Regions from separate parts of the Homo sapiens genome. Here region 1 is linked to region 2. Evidence: fine-mapped expression QTL. A gene starts in region 2. The other region holds a variant in brackets. All regions are shown on one strand. Distances are from middle to middle. Region 1 overlaps TTLL1 (TTL family tubulin polyglutamylase complex subunit L1). Region 2 holds the start of TTLL1 (TTL family tubulin polyglutamylase complex subunit L1).

Region 1 (2,500 bases), 37 kb after region 2:
TCTATGCTTCACTGACTATAGGGTGCACAAGTCTCTGAGGAGCCTGTAAAACTGTGGTGCGTCTCCAGAGGTTGAATCCAGGCAGGCTGGGGAGGGCCCAGGAATCTGCATCATAAGCAGCTGGGTTTGGGGGGTTTTGTGTTTTTTGTTTGTTTGTTTGTTTTTTGAGACAGAGTTTCGCTCTTGTTGCCCAGGCTGGAGTGCAGTGGCGCAGTCTCGGCTTACTGCAACCTCCGCCTCCCAGGTTCAAGGGATTCTCCTGTCTCAGCCTCCCAAGTAGCTGGGATTACAGGCACGCGCCACCACGGCTCGCTAATTTTTTGTATTTTTAGTAGAGACGGGGTTTCACCATGTTGGCCAGGCTGGTCTCGAACTCCCGACGTCAGGTGATCCACCTGCCTCCGCCTCCCAAAGTGCTGGGATTACAGACATCAGCCACTGCGCCCAGCCAGTTTTCTTTTTTTTGTTTGTTTGCTTTTAAGTGACAGGTTCTTGCTCTGTCACCCAGGCTGGAGTGCAGTGGCACGATCATGGCTCACTGCACTCCAGCACTCCTCACGGCACTCCTCTTCCTCCCAGCCTCCAGCTGTCCCGAGTAGCTGGGACTAATGGCACATACCACCACACCCAGCTAAATTTTTTATTTTTTGTAGAGGCGGGGGTCTCGCTGTGTTGCTCAGGCTGGTCTCAAACTCCTGGGCTCAAGTGATCCTCCCACCTTGGCCTCCCAAAGTGCTGGGATTACAGGCATGAGCCACTGCACCCAGCCTCAGGTGGTGTTATTTATGTATCTGGAGAACAGTTAATCTAAGGTGTATCTAAGTGAAATGGAATTGAAAATTACAAAGGAAATTCAAAAATTTGTATGTAAATGGATTTACTTTTGTCACTGGGAACAGAGGTTAATAGTCTGGCACCCGGATCCCTAAGGGCCTGGGAAGGGGTAACGGGCAGCCTGGTGGACAGTTTGTGTTTGTCTGTGATAAGGCTGCACAGACCTTCACTGCAGGTTCTGGGCTTGGAGCTGGACATCCGTTCACTCTGATGACAGTCTCACGCCAACAGAGGGGTTGGGTGCTAGTCAAGCCTCTGATGAGTGAGACGCAGAGATGCCCATTACGGCTTCATCAATTCCCTCTATCAGGCTGAGGAAAGTGCCCAATCTCTGAGCTCTGCGGGAGGAAGAGGGAGAGGAGGGAAGGAAGCGTTTGTGGTGGAGGGTGGGAACCTGTGCTGTGGGAGGTCGGGACGTGGGACGATCCTGCTTGTCTCTGTGGCGTTGGTCTCGGCTGCGCCCTTCGATGCTGGCCATGTCACCCACTGGTCACTCTCTCTCCAGCC[G/A]GTGATGAACAATGACAAGCACTGCTTTGAATGCTATGGCTACGACATCATCATCGACGACAAGCTGAAGCCCTGGCTGATCGAGGTAACTGCGGGAGCACCTGCACCTGGTCACACCACACATAGCCCCCAACACACTTCTGCCCCGATTCGGGCCCAGCAGTCCCCCAGGCCCCAGATGTTTCTCAGGCCAGGCAGGAAGGGGACTGATGTTCGAGTTTGATTGTTTGCTGATGGTTAAGGTATAAGCACATTCCTGCCTTGCTCCCCTCCCAGAGCCCAGCCCACGACAGGGAGCTGTAGCCCATCTCACGTGAACTTGGTGGCTATGACTCCTCCAGGGTGCATCTGGGCTAGTTCATCCTCCCTCAGTCCTGCACCCTGTCCCCCAGGCCCTCCCCTGTCCTCATGGGTGACAGTGTTCCCATCTAGGAAAGCAGCTCACAACCTCGGTACCCTTGGCCAGCAGGAGCACACTCTCCTGAGGGAAGGAACGCCCCTGCTCTTCTTTGGCATATATGAAGGTAGAGTTTGGAAGTGGATTCCTCTGCCTCTTTCAGTGGGTGGAGAGGATGTCGTGTTGGCTATCTGTTTAGCACTGCCTCCTGACACCAAGCCTGGCTGGTGCGACCTCAGCCACAGTGGGCGCTGGCGCGCTTCTCAGAGGCCCCAGCTTCAAACCCACCTTGCCCAACCGTTGCTCTGGAGCCAGGAGGAGGAGCTTCAGGCCTCCAAGGGGACAAAAGAACTCCGGCTCTATTGGTTCATCTCCCTGCACGCCCTCCCAACCAAGTTCATTTGCCAGTGGATGGCTTGGGCCCTTCATCTCGGTCACATTTTGAGCCAGGACACCCAAGTCCACAATAGCAGGTTGTAGGGACTGGTTCCCTATGGGTAGAGTCATGGGAACCCCTGCAGGAAGCTGCTGAAGAGCCAAGTGAGCTGGTTCCATCGTGGCATTTTCCAGGCAACTCCTTATGCCGCCAAAGCTGGGTGTGTGAGCGGGGAATAGATAGCCAGTGTTTGTACTTTCTTGTCCTCCATGTTAAACAGAATAACTTGAGGCTGGGCATGGTGGCTCACTCCTGTAATCCCAGCACTTTGGAAAGCCAAGGCGGGTGGATCACCTGAGGTCAGGAATTCAAGACCAGCCTGGCCA
Region 2 (3,012 bases):
ACTGCTGACCTTAGGTGATCCACCCGCCTCGGCCTCCCAAAGTGCTGGGATTACAGGCGTAAGGCACCATGCCCTGCCTTAAAATTCTTTTTTTGTTGTTGTTTTTTTTAACTTTTTTTCTCTAAGAGACAGAGTCTTGTTCTGTTGGCCAGGCTGTAGTGTAGTGGCGGGATCATAGCTCACTGCAGCCTCAATCTCCTAGGCTCAAGTGATCCACCTCAGCCTCCTGAGTAACTGAGTAGGACTGCTGGCTACGCCCCCATACCCGGCTGATTAAAAATATTTTTTCTTTTTTTTTTAGAAATGGGGTCTTGCTATATTGGCCAGGCTGGTCTGGAACTCCTGACCTCAAGTGATCCTCCCATCTTGGCCTCCCAAAGTACAGGGATTGCAGGCATGAGGCAACATGCTGGAAGGCTACAATGTTTATTGAACACTTTACTATGCCAGGCCCTAACCACGTCTTGCAAGCCTTCACTCATCTCCTGGGTTTAAGGTGAGAACACTGTAGTCGGAAGCCTTGGGACTTCTCAAGGCCTCACAACCAGACAGCAGCTGAAGGGTATGAATTGGCAATTTGGACTCCAGATAAGTGTTGGTTCCACTAGATGGTGCCAAAAGTAAATGATGATGCGCTGAATGTGCTCTGGGCCTGGGAGGCGGTTGTGTGGGAGATTATAGGAAGTGATGTTAGCAAAGCTCCAATCATCACTAAGAAAGCACACCACCACCCCTCCTGAGAGGCAGCAGCATGAATGGTCAGGTGTCCTGGGTTCAAAGCCAGACTCTGTCACTTACAAGTTGCACAAGTTTGCATAACTCTTTAAATTGATGAAATTAAAAATGAATAATTGTATAGAGAATTCGAGGTAACACAGGTCTATAACGAGAATAATAAACGTCTTTTTTTTTTTTTTTTGAGGCGGAGTCTTGTTCTGTCGCCCAGGCTTGAGTGCAGTGGCACGATCTTGGCTCACTGCAACCTCTGTCTCCCGGGTTCAAGCGATTCTCTTGCCTCAGCCTAGCCAGGATGGTCTCGATCTCCTGACCTCGCGACCCACCCGCCTCTGCCTCCCAAAGTGCTGGGATTACAGGCGTGAGCCACCGAGTCTGGCCCAGATAAACACTTTTTAAAAAAAATTATTTTATTTTTATGTTATTATTATTATTATTATTTGAGATGGAGTCTCGCTCTATCGCCCAGGCTGGAGTGCAGTGGCGCAACATCACCATTTCTTCAGATAAGGAAGCCGAGGTAGAAGGGGTAGGAGAGGCTAAACAGCGGATTGAGACCGAACCCAGGATTCGGACCTAATCATCACACCGCTCTACCTTTCTTTTTAGACTTAATCCCGTGCTCCAGACCCTTCTCAATCTCCTTTCTGGGCCCCGAGAGGGTGGACGGCCTGGCATTTCCTAGGATCCAAGCCCTGGGCATAGCGGCCGCCCGAGGTATGGAGCCCAAAGGAGCCCCAGGCAAGTCTGACTCCGGAAATAGTCGCAGCGCCGGCGGTCGCGTCCTGGGTTGCCAGGGCGCCGCCCTGGAAGTAGAGTGCAGCGCGGGGCGGGGCGGGCCGGTGCGCCTGGCAGTCGGCTGCGTACTCCTGCGAGCGCCGGAGAGGGGCTGGAGGCGGGGCGAGGGCGCGGCTCGAGGCATCCCTGCAGGGCGCTCCTCCGAGTCCCTCGGCGCTCTGAGCCCACAGGTGAGGTCCTGTCCCCCAGGCCGCCGCCTCCCGGGCACCGAGGGTGTGGCTGCGCGCGGGCTGGCGAGTGCGCATGGGTGAGAGAGTGTGGGCGCCAGTGTCTACGCGGCTGCGAAAATGCGGTTCAGATGCTGCTTGCCGGATCCGCGTCCTCCAGGAAGCCCGCGCTAACCACCGTGCCTTTCTCCGTCCGCTGAGTTCCTATGACTTACCTCGTGCTGTCCGACTGTTGCAATTGCATCATTATGTTTATTATTTGTTATCCCAGACTTTCATTGTTCCTACACGTTTCCCATTCGTTTGCAATCTGTGTTGTTTCTGTTGGCATCTTTTGCAGGGCGCAATGTACCTGTGGAGAGAACTCAGGGCAGGAGACAAGAGCCTTGTGTCTTCCCTCTAGATGACTGGACCAAGACATTTCCCCTCTCTGATTCCCTATCAGCTAAGAGGGCAGGGCGGGGTAGTCATCCTTTTCCATAGAGTAGCTGGGGCATTAGAGGAGATTAATTCTGGAAGTGAAAGTATCTTATCATTGTTAGCCCTTTTGGCATTTGCAAAGCAGGTTCTTTGCTCAGGAAACGTTTGATGAGCACATTATGGTGCCGGGTTGTGGCGGTACAAAAAGATGGGCCCCGGCCGGGCACGGTGGCTCACGCCTGTAATCCCAGCACTTTGGGAGGCCGAGGCGGGAGGATCACGAGGTCAGGAGATCGAGACCATCCTGGCTAACACGGTGAAACCCCGTCTATACTAAAAATACAAAAAAAAAAAAATTAGCCGGGCATGGTGGCGGGGGCCTGTAGTCCCAGCTACTCGGGAGGCTGAGGCAGGAGAATGGCGTGAACCCGGGAGGCGGAGCTTGCAGTGAGCCGAGATTGCGCCACTGCACTCCAGCCTGGGCGACAGAGCGAGATTCTGTCTCAAAAAAAAAAAAAAAAAAAAAAAAAAAAAAGATGGGCCCTTCTCTGCCCTCAAATTACAGACACTGGTAAGCAGTCACTGTGGAGCATGGTACTGTCACCCAGTGCGGGCGTGGAGATGGACAGTGACAATACCGCTGTGAACGAATGCCCTGCTCAACATGAAGTCATCACTGACATTGTTATTACTTTATTTATTTATTTATTTATTTTTAGACGGAGTCTTGCTTTGTTGCCCAGGCTGGAGTGCGGTCGCTCTCGGCTCACTGCAACCTCTGCCTCCTGGGTTCAAGCGATTCTCCTGCCTCAGCCTCCCATGTAGCTGTGATTACAGGCACGCGCCACCATGCCCCGCTAATTTTTTAAATTTTAGTAGAGATGGGGTTTCG

The links. PIP is the estimated chance that this variant, and not a neighbour inherited with it, causes the effect. A credible set is the group of variants that fine-mapping cannot tell apart.
Region 1: its variant is the best candidate, but not a certain one, in a credible set for the expression of TTLL1 in whole blood (TOPMed, PIP 0.86).

Annotation. Positions count from the first base shown.
Region 1 is chr22:43,050,727-43,053,226 of GRCh38, reverse strand. It overlaps TTLL1 (TTL family tubulin polyglutamylase complex subunit L1), which reads left to right. Exons shown (of 11, transcript NM_012263.5): 9 at 1,340-1,426. TTLL1-AS1 (TTLL1 antisense RNA 1) reads right to left here. Exons shown (of 3, transcript NR_125362.1): 3 at 861-1,172. Among named protein-coding and RNA genes, the nearest start is that of TTLL1-AS1, 13 kb to the right of the region's middle. The variant G/A (reference allele first, on the strand shown) is at 1,342.
Region 2 is chr22:43,087,968-43,090,979 of GRCh38, reverse strand. It overlaps TTLL1 (TTL family tubulin polyglutamylase complex subunit L1), which reads left to right and starts at 1,589. Exons shown (of 11, transcript NM_012263.5): 1 at 1,589-1,703. RefSeq lists silencers at 615-674, 1,423-1,717, 1,482-1,821 and an enhancer at 1,423-1,717.